Linked DNA regions of Homo sapiens. The protein of the gene in region 2 purifies or fractionates together with the protein of the main gene of each other region. This does not show direct contact. Each region holds a gene or a part of one and is shown on either strand. Other genes may lie near its edges.

Evidence for each region. Proteins that work in one complex are often made in the same cells at the same time.
Region 1: the proteins of DZIP3 (region 2) and TIAL1 purify together in Homo sapiens (affinity purification with mass spectrometry; 3 studies listed by BioGRID and IntAct, with this or other methods). This does not show direct contact.

What each region holds. Positions count from the first base shown.
Region 1 is NC_000010.11:119,579,056-119,587,274, forward strand, and holds part of TIAL1 (nucleolysin TIAR), read right to left. Parts: intron 3,554-8,219; coding exon of another isoform or gene 3,503-3,553; coding exon 3,404-3,502; intron 3,169-3,403; coding exon 3,114-3,168; intron 2,955-3,113; coding exon 2,867-2,954; intron 1,792-2,866; exon of another isoform or gene 1,418-1,791; coding exon of another isoform or gene 1,416-1,417; intron 956-1,415; coding exon 880-955; intron 1-879. UniProt on the Homo sapiens protein: RNA-binding protein involved in alternative pre-RNA splicing and in cytoplasmic stress granules formation. Shows a preference for uridine-rich RNAs.
Region 2 is NC_000003.12:108,683,226-108,691,444, reverse strand, and holds part of DZIP3 (E3 ubiquitin-protein ligase DZIP3), read right to left. Parts: intron 7,230-8,219; coding exon 7,104-7,229; intron 5,018-7,103; coding exon of another isoform or gene 5,001-5,017; coding exon 4,861-5,000; intron 3,470-4,860; coding exon 3,349-3,469; intron 2,853-3,348; coding exon 2,709-2,852; intron 2,623-2,708; coding exon 2,521-2,622; intron 659-2,520; coding exon 548-658; 3' UTR 542-547; intron 1-541. UniProt on the Homo sapiens protein: E3 Ubiquitin ligase proteins mediate ubiquitination and subsequent proteasomal degradation of target proteins.

The sequences.
Region 1 (8,219 bases), on a different chromosome or scaffold from region 2:
CTTCAATAAAATGTAGATGACCTGTAATCCCAGCACTTTGGGAGGCCAAGGCAGGAGGATCACTTGAGATCAGAAGTTTGAGACTAGCCTGGCGAACCCAAGTGAAACCATGTCTCTACCAAAAATATAAAAATGAGCTGGGTGTGGTGGCACATGCTTGTAATCCCAGCTACTCAGGAGGCTGAGGCAGCGCGATCGCTTGAACCCGGGAGGTGGAGGTTGCAGTGGGCTGAGATGGCACCACTGGACTCCAGCCTGGGCAACAGAGCGAGACTCTATCTCAAAAAAACAAAACAAAACAAAACAAAACATTGATTTAAGTTATTGAAACTGCTTTAAAATCAAAGCCCACTTTATTATTTAATGTTACAGTTAATGCAAATGCTTACTTTGGTACCCCTTTTACAAAGAATATATGCAAAAATCAAGATGAATTGCTTAAATTTTTATTTACATAATTTGTTGTAGTCATTCACATCCCAGTTATATAAGAGTATGAATAATAATTTAAAAGGTAGAGTTAAAACTGAGATTTTCATGGTTAAAACTGAATATAATTTACCTAACCTCTAAATTCTCAGATTAGCTCATCTGTCCTAGACTTGGGCTTTACTTCTAAATCCATCTGACCTTTACCAATGTACAAACACAATTTTAATAATCTTCCTTATAGTATAATCATTCTTTTTCTAGCTATTTATTTTCGAGTTTATGAAAGAGGAATGAAATTATACTCTATTATTAAAACATACATAACATTACATAAAAGTTGTGTTTGTAGTTAACATTCAAGTATATTCAAGTTTCAGATTCAATACATTAAGTAACTAATGACTAAATTTAGTATTAAAAAATATAAATTGAGATGGAAGAACGTACCAGTTTGTTATAAAAAGATACAAAACCATAGCCTTTGGATTTTCCAGTTGCCATGTCTTTAACTACCCGGGCATCCCTGTGAAAAGAAGCACAGCTAAATGAGGGAAGTAAGAGCCACCCTCAAAATAAAAACTAAAAGGAACCACACACACTGTATTGTGAGCATTTTTAAAATAAAATTCCAGTTAGCCCTAATTAACTACAACCATTCCTGAACTCTCCCTAATGCTTCTTTACCTGTTAGAAAAAAGCAGTAGGACAAAAACATGTAATAAACATGCAACCTAATCAAATAGCCTGTGCTTTCTAAACTAAATGCTCAAATTTGAAGATTAATAGGAACAACAGTTTCCCTTTCTAATATTCTATTTACTAGTGTCCTCTAAGGTTTACTGATTCTATAAATTACTGTAACAATACTAACTACTTTACCATGCAATCTCTAAATAGTTAAATGTCTTCTGCCTAGTGATACAAAATATATGAAATATTAAAAAATTGAAAAAGAGGAAAAAATAGGAATTAAAAAGGCATACATGGCCTGTTAACAGATTTCTTTATTTTTCTTGGTCAATTCTCTACCATCATTTTGGAGTTTGGGCAGCTGTAAATTTTGAAAAATTGACATTTTCAGAAATTTAAGAAAGGAGAATAAAAAACTAACAACAATGCTAAGCACACCAGTACGAAAACAACAAATTTACACAGAAATTTTAGTGAGTAAGTTAAATGATTGGAAATATAGAACTCCACTGAATATAGAATGTTAAAATGTAAATACTAAAATATGTATATATAAATAATGTATAATAAGAATAAATAGAAATGAGAAAAAAAATCTACAACTGAGTTCCAGTGTGCACAGTTCCTTGCAGTTAGCCTTCAAGATCCTGTCCATTCTTATGAGCAATTCTGCAAAATAACCAGAATGCTATTACTTTTAATTGTGACTTGGACTTAAGAAAAACTGCAGGTCTCAGGTATAAATAAAGATTGAAAAACAGCAACCTGTATTATTTTTATATTGATTTTTAAAATAGTACTACTTACCACATTTAGATTAAAAAGCAAAGCAAATATCAAAACAGAAAGTTAAGAATTACATCTTTTAAAGAAATTAAATCTATAGAACAACAAATTGTATAGAGAAAATATTGTTGTTCTTAGTTGAAACACTTTCCTGTAAAGTAGTACTAAGATGTTTAATTTAAATCTACAGGAAATATACAAAATAAACTGATTTTAATCAGAAAGATAAATTATGATAAACATTTTCTACAATTCATAACCATTTTTAGTTTTCCAATATATTTTTTACCAAGTAACAACAGTAAAATCTGAGCATAAATTTGTTAAAAATCAAACCACATTTGCCTCTTAACTAGTAGAATCAAATATCACTAACAAAAACATCTAATTAATCCCACATTTATGACTCATACATTGAAACATTTTAATAGTATAATAGTACTTTTCACTTATAGCTAAAATATCAAAAACACATTTATCATAATAAAACATGAACATTTCCAATTTAATCACAATATATCCAAGGATTTACCTACTCTCCCCCATTTATAAATTCCTCCTATAAAAGTTATTGAACTCTTACACAGTATAGATCACATTTACTTTTGATTAACTCATTATCCTAAACCATCAAATTTTGAAAACATATGACAAAAAGCTAGACTTTATAAGTTTTACCATTCAAACATCTGCTTCAAAGATAACAAACAGAATCACTTAAATTTTTTTTAACATATTATACACAGGATTAGATGAAAACGAGACCCCAAGACACTGAAATGACATTAACATTTTCAACAACATCCACTACTCAAAACAAACCAAAATAAATAAATGAAAAATAAGAAACAAAACAAAACCATACTAACTAGAGAAAGAAAATCTTAATTCAATTACAAGTTAATCATATACAATTCTGCCTATCATGACTGAGTGTAGTACTGATTATGATACTTACGATATTTTACCAAAGGGGGCAAATGCTGATTTGATATCTTCTGTTGTAATTTCTGGACTCAAATCCCCAACAAACACATGGAAGTGATCTGAAATCAGAGCATTTGGTAATCAAATACTTAAGAAGTCAGCCACTAAAACCTTTTTAAGGCAACTCTAGAGGAGGAAAAAAAAACCTATTTAAGCTGGTAATGCCTCCTGGATAATTTCAGAACTCTTCCACAGTAAAATGCAGCAGGAGTACTTACTGGAAGTATCTTTTTTCTGGCTACTTGGTGTGGTTGCCCAGTTTACTTTGACCTCCTAAAAATAAAGATTATATTTAATAAAATTATTAGGCATGTCATGAGTTACAACACTTACCACTTATTAAATCATTTATCAAGCAGGGTTATTTTTGTAAAAGCACTAAGCTGAATAAAGCAAAACCATCACTCAGCAGCCGAATATCTGCTCAAAAATTTGCCTAGAAAGAATACAAACTAGTTTGACATGCAAATATATGTACTCATAAGGTGCCATCATCCTATTATCTTACCTTTCCCAAAATTTTTCTCCCATTCATAGCAGCTAATGCAGCAGCTGCATCTCTGTGTTCATAAAATTCCACAAAGCAATATGGGTCATTGCTTGTATGCTGCAAAACAGAAAATCCAACAGAAGAGTTGACCCTTCTGCTATCGGGTTGCTGAGAAGAAAATCCAGGAAAAAACATTACTGATAGCTGGGAATATACAAGGTGAGACTGCATAAGCTTATGAAAGCCTAACACTTTTTAAATAAGATTTAAAGCTAAACCTGACTTTGCACCTCAGAATACTGCTGAACTCAAACGGAACTATAAAAGCAGTTGTAGAATCATGAGCATCAGTATTAAATGAAAATAAAGAATTCTGGTGAAGTGTGTTAAATATAAAATAGAAGATTATATTAAACCAAACAAAACCTCAAACTCAGATCTGATGAGGACCACTCCTTACCACTACTTTCCTTCTCCAATATTATTTTTAAATTACGTTCTACTTATGCATCATAATCCTCTATAAGTGGTATCCCAGGATACAGAAATACAGCAAGAACCAACTTCATAAACTACTGATCAAAATTAGGATCAATACTACAAATGATGGAATTCTATGCTGCTACAAAGACTGAATTTTATTGATTTCTTTTCTGGATATGGAAAGAATGAAAATAAAAACAAGAAAACTTAAGCTTTATAACCAGCTACTGAAATGAATTCCCTACCTTCCAAAATAGTCTAATGTACTGAAGATTCTATATACTTTGAATTTGGTCTTCCAAAGATCAGAGAAATAACAGTGGTGATCAAGAAAAGAGGTTCTGAAAATGTATCTGAATAAAATATTCCAAGACAAAGCTATAAGTTTACATCATAAGAACACCATATAAAAAATCTATATTAAATATATTCTGCAACCCTGTGCTTGACAGTAGTTACCTAAAACACATTTATAAAGATGTGAAGAAAGTAGTACTACCTAAGCTATAGCAACATTCTCACCTGACAACCAAACTAGAAATGAATTTCTATGAAACTGCAACCTGTACTGAATAGCTGCACAACTGTACAAATACATATTTTTATGTAAGGCTAAAAACATTCATCATTATTCAATGTAAAATGCCCTATAAGAATAATATTTAAAATGTGGAATTCTAGTTGGACTTACAAGGGATAAATATACCAGATAAAATAAAGATCTTTTCAACCACAACAGTTTTTCATTCCAGGAAAGTTTTAGAAGAAAAATCCAAAATAAGACGTCTAAACAATAGTGGCAAAGGAACCAGAAGGCATTTCCTTGAGGGAAAAAAAGTGGGATCGTTAATACTGACAACAAAACTATGGGCTCTCATACAAAATCCTACTGTTGTAGCCACGTGAATGCTGTTCTTAAGAGGTAAAGAAAGGAAATGGGGGAAGACTTCAAATGAAAACACACATTTAAATTCTTGTAAAAGAGTTATTACATTTACCATAAATATTCATTGAAGAAAGGACATCAAAATAAATAAGAGGCTAAAATTGTGCTAGTTGAGTTTTCCTTTCACTCCTATCTCTTTTGCCCCAATGGTCTCTAAGGAAAACACTGATAATCACAGCAAAACATACAGGGGTCCAACAGCAGATCTATGATAATCCCATACACTTTAGGAAACTAGTCTACTCGTGAATACCAATTTCAAATCTATCTAATAGTAGGCCAGCTCCCAATCAATGTATGCACGTGCATGTATATATACACATATATTCACTGACATCACATATTTTATATATTCACATCACACTGCATATCATCTAATTTAAGACACCACTTATTTCTAAGTCACATCCCAACTGTCAGATATTAAAATTCTAAAAAAATTTGACTTAGAATCAATAATATATATTTGTATTATATAAGGAAAGCTAGAATCTATGATAACAACATCTAAAGTAAAAAAAAAATCATAAAACTATGGGGGAAAAAGGATTTTTCACATACTGAAATGAAATTTATGAAAGAAAAATAAATAGCTGCTAGATACTCTGCTAGAGTTTATACCCTCTGGAAGCTTCTTATTTACACCACCAAGTGACATCCTAAAAATCAATTATGGGCTGGGTGCAGTGGCTCACACCTGTAATCCCAGCACTTTGGAAGGCTGAGGCAGCTGGATCACTTGAGGTCAGGAGTTCGAGACCAGCCTGACCAACATGGTGAGACCCCCATCTCTACCAAAAATACAAAAAATTAGCTGGGTGTGGTGGCGGGCGCCTGTAATCCCAGCTACTCAGGAGGCTGAGGCAGGAGAATCGTTTGAACCTGGGAGGCAGAGGTTGCAGTGAGCCAAGATCGTGCCACTGCACTCCAGCCCGGGCAACAGAGCCAGACTCTGTCTCAAAAAAAAGTGCTCACGCCTGTAACCCAAGCACTTTGGGAGGGCGAGGTGGGCGGTTCACGAGGTCAGAAGATCAAGACCATCCTGGCTAATATGGTGAAACCTTGTCTCTATTAAAAATACAAAAAATAAAAAAATAAAAAATATTAGCTGGGCATGATGGCACGCACCTGTAGTCCCAGCTACTTGGGAGGCTGAGGCAGGAGAATCACTTGAACCCAGGAGGCCAAGGCTGCAGTGAGCCGAGATCATGCCATTGCACTCCAGCCTGGGCAAAAGAGCAAGATTCCATCTCAAAAAAAAAAAAAAAAAAAAAAAATCAATTATGGCTGGGTGCAGTGTCTCATGCCTATAATCTCAGCACTTTAGGAGGATGAGGCAGAGGCAGGAGGATCACTTGAGCCTAGGAGTTTAGGACCAGCCAGAAGTTCGGGACCATTGGTAACATGGTGAAACCAATCTCTACAAACACATTTAAAAATGAACTAGGTGTGGCGGTGCTGTCCCAGCTACTTGGGAGACTGAGGTGGGAGGATCACTTGAACCCAGGAGGTGGAGGCTGCAGTGAGCCATGATGGCGCCACTGCACTCCAGCCTGGAGGACAGAGTCAGACCCTGTCTCTTAAAAAAAAAAAAAAAAAATCCGTTATGTCCCTACCTTATTTAGCGTTGTCACCAATTTTTGTTGGATGACATAAATGTCAAGACAGAGAAATATGAGACTTTACAAGCTCAAATCTAGGAGTTCTAGAATATGGATGTTATGAAAATTCATTTCGAGTCCCTCTACCCTTCAAATAGCTGTATGTATACATGGGGTTTTAAAAAATAGTTAAAATAAATCTTTACAAATGTTTCTCAAAAATTTTCTAGTGAGTCTTTCCCCACTTTCTCACAACCCGTTCTCTCCTAAACCTACTTCTGTCAGCTTCCAAGCTAACCATGCCACTGAAACTGCATGTTGAGCTCAACAATGACCTCTCTGCTGCTTCTGTGATTCCTTTTCCATCCTAATCTTTACTTCCAAGCAGAATTCACTACAGTTGACCACCATCCTCCTTTAAACATTCTCTTCTGTCTCCTACCACACTCTGGTTTTCCTGTTTCCTCACTGTAGGATCTTTCTTCCCTTACTCAAACTCTAAATGTTGAGCTTGTCCAGGGCTCAGACCTCACGGCCTCTGTGCTCTTCTTTACCATCATTCTCTCTCTGTGAACTCATCTAGTCCCATGGCTTCATGGATTCAAATACCACTGCAAGCTTCAGCACCGGTCTCTCTAGAGTTGCAAACTACTTTATCCAACTGCCTAATCTAACGTCCACTTTGATGTCTAATTCATGTCTTAAATCTAACATCCAAAACACAATTTCTGATTCCCACCACTCCCCATGGTGACATCCATCAGGTCACCCCCACTTTAGCAAATAAATAGCATTACCAACTATACAACTGCATTAACATGAATCTTAGGGTATTTCCTGATTTCTTCCTTTCCCTATGTCCCACAGCCAACCCAGTCCTATCAATTCTACCTCCAAAATATATTCCAAATCTATCAACCTCTGTCCTTATCTTGACTTCGGCTAGCACTTTCGAGAATAAGCCTCCATCATCTCTTACCTAGACTAGTGAAGTAAATCCAGATGGTTTTTCTCCTTCTGCTCTTGCCCGCTACAATCTATTCTCCATAAAACAGTCATTCTCTACATAGAGTAGTAAGCTTAAATATGCAAATCTTGGCACCTCATCCCCCTGCTTAAGCCCCTCCACTGGTCTGCCACAGCAATCAGAGTAAAACCTAAACTATGTCATGGACCATAATGTCCTGTGATTCTGAATCCTGCTGTTAGACTCATTTCCCTTAACTCCCCTCCATCCCTCACCAGACTCTAGCCATCGGTCTTTGATTCCACAAACACAAGTTCATTACCAACTCAAGACTTGTATTTGCTGTTTCCTCTGCCTCCAGCTCTTACCATAGATAGCACCATCTTGTTATTCATCTCAGCTCAAAGAGGTGACATCTCTCATCACCTAGCCTATATAGCACCAACCCTCCAATCATCACAGAACTCTGTTTTATTCTCTTCATGGCTTACATCCCTATTTGCTTGGGAAACTCATTTGGCTGTCTCTCCATTATATCTCCAGTACCTTGTATAGTGCCTAGTGCAAAGGAAATTTTTGATCGATGAAAGCACAAATAAATAATTAAAGGCAGGAAGGAAAAATATAATACACCAGAACAAAATGATGATTGTCATTACTTGGGAAAGACAATCAAAAGGCCAATGCACTTTAAAGGTTTTTAACAGTTCTCCGTTTCAGGATAAAACAAACTCTTTAGCACAGTTTCTAGCCCTTTCCATAAACTCCTGCCATCTCTTACGACTAATTCCATTTTAACTACAACCATGCTACGGGTTCTATTTTTCCCTCTCTGTC
Region 2 (8,219 bases):
AGCTCTCCGTGAATATCCACTTCTTTTTTTTTTTTTACTTTCTTTTTTTTTTCTTTTATTATTATTATACTTTAAGTTTTAGGGTACATGTGCACAATGTGCAGGTTAGTTACATGTGTATTCATGTGCCATGCTGGTGTGCTGCACCCATTCCTACTTCTTTACTATTTCCCTTTTCCTTAAATTTATTTCAGGAAATTAAAGTGTAGAATACTTGAGGGGAGAGTAAAGGATGAGTGAAATAAGAATTTAAAAAGACAAGAAAAAACATCCTAAGAAATATGCTAACAGTTATGTTTCCACTACAAGAAAAAAACCTACTAAGAGCATATATAGTGTAACTATTAAAATTCCATCTGCTTCAAGCTCTTTCAGTTCATTTCACAAGTCCTGAAGATTTGTCCTGACTTCTTTGGCTGCTGCTTTGATAAAATTAGCTGGCTTCTTTAGCACTATATTGAAGAGCACATAGTTTTACACCACTCAAACAAGCAGCTCATAATAAAAGAAAACTGAGCTTCCTTTGCATAGACACCCCGACCTTGTATCAGATCTTGGGCAACTGCCGGCTGGGGTGACCAGGGAATTCTTCTGGTAGCAAAACGTGGAGTCTGCACGTTGGACATGTCCCCTGTTGCATCAACCATGGTCTAATGCACTAAGGAGCAAAAAGATTTATGTCAGTCTCTCAGATGTAGCCTAGCAGAGGCAGTTGTCACTCTATGCATCAGGGTTACCAACCAACATGTCTTCTGGTGGATCTTTAAAGCCTTACGCTGTGGATCGTCAAACCAATTGCTGCAACCATGGCACCTTCCCTGTGGTTTGCTAAACAAAATAGGTGGTAACTGCACAATACCTTTTAGCCAGTTTATTCTACTAGAAATGCTTCCTTCAACCTCAATTTTCAAGATGACTAGCAATCCTTCCTGACAAGGAAATTGGAGAAACTTGCTATATTCTTTGGTTTACTATATACTGTTCTCATTTATAATCCAGAAAAAGTCATAACTAATGATACAAAAGTCACTAGTACCTGGTATGAAATGCTTATGGTGTTTGCAGTTAAAATCCCTAGATCATGAATACACTTCTCAGATTGTTTTCTTTGGCGATAATGACAGTAATTTTCGGCTATGAACTATCTGTTAAGTCACTTGCTTGAATGCTGACTCTCCAAAAACAAATCATTTTTACGTATATAAATAATGGAGGGCCAGGTCAGATGAGAGAGGATTAATAATAAGCACTATATATAATAGGCCCACTAACTATAGTCATAAAAAATGACCTGAATGAATTATATGCTTTCTACTTGTGGGCAATGGCAAAGAGTAGGATAAGTTTTGTTAAACATGTATTTCCTAAATTGTCAGAACCTTATAAACTTCAAAGGGGAAAGTCAATGGCTAAGGATCTTTCCTAGAAAACTTTTGGGATTAGGCATTTTGTGGATGTATCTTCATATTAGAGCAAATACAAAATATAATTCTGTACCAGGTACCACATATCATATCTTTGAAATGATGTCTTACAAACATGGCTTGACTGAACTGGCTATTATTTACTTCCCTGAAAAGCCTTTCTTTACTATGACTACCTTTTCCTGTGTCAAATTACATCTCTGCAACAGAGGACTTGGATCATTAATTATATACCAATAGCAACTGTGTGGCAGTAACACCAGAATTTAATCTATATAAATGCCAAGAATCAACAAAAGACATGCCAACCTCATATTTTTCTTTTTCTTTTTTTGAGATGGAGTCTCACTCTATCACCCAGGCTGGAGTGCAGGGGCCCGATCTCGGCTCACTGCAAGCACCACCTCCTGGGTTCACACCATTCTCCTGCCTCAGCCTCCTGAGTAGCTGGGACTACAGGCACCCGCCACCACGCCCGGCTAATTTTGTTTCTGTATTTTTAGTAGAGATGGGGTTTCACAGTGTTAGCCAGGATGGTCTCGATCTCCTGACCTCATGATCCACCCACCTCAGCCTCCTAAAGTGCTGGGATTACAGGTGTGAGCCACCATGCCTCACATTTTTCTAACATCAAAACTCAAGCCTGAGTATCTTTCAAAAGCAAATATAGAAGCCTGAAGAGACTGATAAATCTTATGCTTTATGAAAGGGGGCTGTCATTAATTATGGACAAAGGACACTATGTGGTATTTATAGCATGTCAATTTCAAGTGGTGCTGTTGCTAGTTCTGCCACTAAACTACCACGTCAATCGACATTTGTCCCAGTTCTATTCGAAGGAACTGCCTACTGTGTACCATCTGACTCTCAACATTGTCCCCTTCTTCTGTAGGGTGGATGGAGATCTGAGAGAGCACAATGCAATCCATGGCTATGTATGGGAAAAGCATAAATGTTTCTGTGTGGTACCCAAAAGCTCAGAGTTATATCCAGTGGAACTTGTGAGACAACAATGGATAATGATACATGTATATGATAATAAGTAAGGCAGTATGAATCTCATTTAGCTGATTAATGGGAAAATTTAAAGTGTTACCTGAGCATGGAATTTGTGAGCGCAAGGCAAAACTGAAAGATTTTCTGGAGACAGATTCTCATGACAGATCACACAAGGCTCTTCTTCTTCCTCTTCCTCATCCTAGGGAAAATACAGAAAATGTTAAATTTAGCTCATTGTTTTCTCCCAAATCTAAATGTGTTCAGAATCAAAAATTTCAGTCTCACTGGATTACTGGCTCCTTCCCATGTGGCAGGACCCTGTGAAGTGAGTGGCCTCCAGGCTGGTTTTGGGGGCTGGGCAGCATCAGGCTGTGATGGAGAATGACTAGGTGAAACACAATTAACATTTGACACTGATTTTCCTTGACTCTGAAAATAAGAACATAATGTTTATTTTTTCAGAATTATCCTAAAACAGTAAGAGCTGAAACATTAGTACAGAACGGGGTATAGTAAGAACTAGCAAAAGGGTAAATAATCAGATTTGTGAGAAATCTTGAACAAAATGGTGGCAATACTTATATACTCAGAGCTAGGTAAAAACAAAAATAACTCTATACATTCTTTTAATTAAAATAAATCTTTCAAGAAAATTAGAAAATCTCTCCCTCTTTAGACTCATTCAAAGAAACTAGAGCAAATTTCAAGGAGGTCAGTTTTATTCTAGAATGATTAGGTAACAGGTATTTCAAAAAGACTTCTGATATCATTTGTTAAGTTGAAGTTGTTATTTACTGTTAATAGATGATTTAATATGATTACAAGTTACTGATTTTCTGAACAGGTTATGGAGATATTTAAAACAGTTAACTACTAGAGTTAAGGGCAGAGAGATACAGGTTTTTTGGTTGTTTTTGCATTTTACCTGAGACTTTTTGGGGTCAATAAACTGGGAAATCTTGCAAACAATTTCATCAAATGTCAGTTCAGACAAGGATTTTCCATAAGCATCCTTCAATTTCCGTAAGAAATCTGTAAGTTCCTTTCTGCAAGAGATCAAGGAAAGGAAAGGGCAGTAATGATTTTCCTTAGTACCTTTGAGGATGTACCCACCAAAGGAGATATAAAATCCTATCGCATGATTGATATGTAGCATACAGACAGGACTCTTTAGGTCTTTGATCTAAAAAAGTGATCACAGGTCCATCTGCATTTATCTTAAACCAAAAGGAAAACTCCTAATTGTGTTCATTAATGATACTTAATGTTTTCATGAGTGATAAAGTTTAGTACTTATTTTCTTTCCAAAAAGAGACTTCGTTTTTGAGAGCTCACTAGGTGAAAATTAAGTTTATCCACTTATTTATGCATTGGGTTCTTTATACCATCTCTCAAGTGGTTTCTTGCTCAGGATAACATATTTATTTTTAACTATGTTGCTATTGGTTTCTCTCTTCTTTATCAGTGTTAATAGTTGTACTTTCGTAAAACTCAGAAAACAAAGATTAAACAGAACAGGAAAGCAAGGGTTAAAAATCACATTAATTATATAATGAAAGAACCCACAATTATTTTAATTGATATGTTCCTTTTTAATTCCCAAGATCCATTGATCCAAAGCCTGCATCTACAGTTTTGATGGGACAAAGTAGAATGAAATATTTTTGTTTCCCAAATGAAGTGTCATGTCATCAGCCTTATGCAACTACCTTTGATTTATAATGTTTTTATACATATTTATAACAACTGTACTAGAGTTCTATTTTATTATCTATTCACTATTATGAAATTTATAAAATTATAATTTAATAATGAAGTGTGCCAGTATATATATTAAATGTTTGTATTGAAATAAAAATACTTGTGAAAAGTAGAATTATTTCCTTAGATATGAGTTGAGATAAAAGAAACTTCATTTGTGTAGGAATATAATTAAATATCTTTCTACTAAAGGTAGACTGTGAAAAGCACAGTAAAGTTATGATTTCTTGCATTTTTAGTGTGTTCTCCAACAAAGAAACTATAAGGACCCTCAAAATTAAGGAAATTAGGAAATTAAATCCTAAAGATGTTTGGGCTTATATAGCATACAATCAACTTAAAATTCACTTTGGAGATAGGTTAAGATAATAATGGCAGTTAGTGCCATTAAAATTGGGTAAGTTTACATCTAGTTGTACTTTTAGTAAATGAGCATACCTAAATTTAAAGTTATTCTCTCATGATTTAAGACAAGTAACTTTTTAATGAAGAGGTTCACCATTGAACACTGTCTCTTCTTGGTAAATTTCTTTTTCCTTACCAAGGTCAAGGTAAGGAAACATCTGTACTTTTTTTGTGTTTGTTATGTTTCTCTGAAATGTTTCATTGCCACAATTATGGCTATGAAAACTGGAGAATATGATCTGTACCCACCAATAAATAAAAACTAAGGTACCTGGTTTGCTGTGGAAAGGCAGTTTTCAGCCTGTCTGTAATTCTCTCCCAATTCATGATGGAGGGATCACTCCGCAGACCTGCACTGGGAGGCACAGCGTCTCCCACAGGCGCTGGCAGAGCCCAGGCTATGCCAGTCATCTGTAAGAGGCAGAGAGCTATAGCCCAGCAGGTTTAATTATTAAGAAGTGACATTCCTATACCTCAGAAAATGGGTACAATGAAGAAGCGTACTGGCATACACATTCAATTTTTACAGTTTTTCTCTTAATATTTCTAATTGTTTGTAACTATTTTAAACTTATTTTAAAAATAGGACAAAGAAAAGGGTAGAATGAAGAAGAATACTGGCATACACAATCCCTTTTAGGGTTTTTCTCTTAACTAATACAAACAATATTTCTAACTGTTTATAAATATTTAAACTTATTTTTAAAATAGGACATGCTTGCTTCAGTAATTACATACATGTACAGCAAAACATGAAGGCTGTTTACTGCTGTTTCTCTTTTAACAGTGAAAACTGAAAAAACCTTACATCTATAGAGAAATGAATAAATTATGGCACATCTAATCAAGTTTTTAAAAATAGAACTGTATGTCTGGGCATAAGAGATATGCATGAAATATGATTTTTTAAAAAGTCTGTGGCACAGTATTTATGATACGACTTCCTTTTACATTAAAAAATTTTAAATGCATATGTATACACGGAGAAAGGTCTGTAAATTACAATGCGTAAGAAGTGATTATTTCTTAGGGATCAATTGCACAGTAACTTTGTTTTCTAATGTGCTTACATTTCTATATTATTCGCATTTTGTGATTAGCATATATACCTTTATAACGAGAAAGTAAAGTTACATTTTTCAAACAACCAAATAAAGATGGGAATACTACTAGAACTGCTCTGCCCAATGTCTCATCAATGTTGTAGACAAAAGTGGTGCAGAAGTTGTAGTGACATGCAGCCATGAAACCATCACTTTTCTCCATATTTTATGGTAGTTCCTTCTTAAGATTCTAATTAAATAATATAATAACAGAGTATTTTTGGAGTGCTCATCTGATTACTAAGATAATTATGACCACTTGCACCTTTTATGTAAGGCTCTAATGGGTTATTTTCAAATATTAGGTTATTATTCATGAAAAACTAGCAACTACTAACAGTCACTGTAATAATTTGTACAGAGCCTAAGAAGTGAGGGGAAGCAGAATATTTCCCAGAAATCTGAATTTGCTTCTATGTCAAGCTTTACCCCAGGAATCAGAAAGTAATCTTATTAGGAGATTAAGGTATTTTAATGTTTTTAATAAAATTTTATCATAGTTTCTTATAGAATGGTGGGCAAGCAAATTGCAAGAGTTAACACTGTAATATCATGGTAGTAAAAAGATGTGTTACTTATTTAACATATTAAGGACTATATACAGATTTGTTTATAGACAGGTAGCCTCGACAATAATAAGCAGAGTCCACCTGACCATGTATTTCAAAAGGAAACTGTTAGCAATATATGGGGAGCAGAAAAGAAAAGAAACAATTAATTGCACCTAATTATACTTATAGGAAAATCAAGATTAGAGAATTTTCATTAATTACATCTAACATCATTCTTTTGGAAGATTTTCCTTTAATAAAAAACCTTCACCAAGATTACAACTGATAATTCTGGTAATTTCAAATTTATATGTTCCTTCTTCAGGTTTGGATAAAGTTTATCTGGCTATTTGTAGCTGGGAAGATTTATAACTTTACAGTTTATGTTTCAAGGTGATGCTATTTATAGTCTGTTTATAGATACACTTGAAATACTGTCCTACTATGTGTGTGTACGTGTGTGGAAATAAAATTTTTCTTTAGCTTTGTGCCATAATATAGTTTGTTGTGACTTGGCTTCTTTGCTTTTCAATCTTCCCAACAACCATGCCAAAAAAATCTATTAAAAATGTCAATTTACCCTGCATTGTTGCCTATTTCAGAAGCAATACTATAATTTTAAGGATTCTCTAGTATAAAAACATATTTATCTTTGTATCCCAAAACGAAGCTAGTATCAGTTAAATAATATATGTAACACCCTGAGCACAGTGCTTCACAGGAAGTATTCATTCAATTATCACCACCACCCCCATCATTATCATATCAAATGAATGAACAAAATGAAGATACTCATTCAGGAAGCCCACTAGAGTAATAAAAAAACTAATTAACATCTATTCCACCAAGAAAGCTTTTACCAGGGGGGCTCTAGGTTGGCCAGTTGCAGAGACGACTCCCGGGCAAACTGCAGGCATTTGAGGAACAGTAAGTATGGGTCTAAAGAAAGATTCTTTCACAAGAGGTCTTCCTAAGAACTGCTGCATCTAAAATAGAAAATATAAACAATAATAAACAACACCCCCCCCCACATATTTATATATTTATTTAGGCAATCATCTAAATTCATACAGCAATATGGCGGGGGGAACACTCATTTGAACTCAAGATACAAAGCACATTAGAAACAATGTATGTCAGAAAATGAAACATATGAATATTGGAAAAACAAAGGGCAATGAGATATATTGAAAACAGCATTGACAAAGACAGAAAAGAAATAGCTTCTAGTCACATTTCTCTCTACGTAGCTGAATAACCTTGGAAACCAATTTCCTAATCTATAAAATGAGAGGGTTGGATAAGGTAATCATTAAGGTTCCCTCCCAACTGTAATCACATAGAACTATGCAAAGGAGATTCTCAGGAAGTGTTATCTATGTTGGTGGGCAATATTGATACTCAGAAATTTCACAGAACAACCCAAAGTTATCCATAGAAAATATTTTATATTGGAGGTAATACTTGATGAAATTTTGACTTAATGTTTAGCTCCAAGGAGAGCTGGAGGAGGAAGTGGGATGGGCCTGGGAGATAAACTCTGCTATAGTGATTTGCAGATATGCTTGTGGGTATTACCGTACTTCCCAGGGGGTTATGGAAATCTAGACCTTCTTAGCAGCTATCTGTGGAAAAGATACCTTGCTGGCTGGAGCAGAGAAGGGGGCAGATTTATTGGATATGTAGTACATGCCAGCCCTACTACTGGCATTAAGCATAAAGCAGGAGTTCAATAACAATTTGTTACTGAACTTAAAAAATGAGGAACAGCAACATAGCTCTAAGTAATGATCCTAAAAATATCATGTGAAAAATTAATGGGGAACTTTACAATGGATAGACTGGACTGGCATTTGAGTTTTAACATCTTAAAAGAACATTATGTGATTGCTAGGTAAGAAAAAGAGATTTTTTAAACAACTGGGAAACAAAAATTCTAACTGGATATTAAAAATTATAATTTTCTTAGGTAAGAC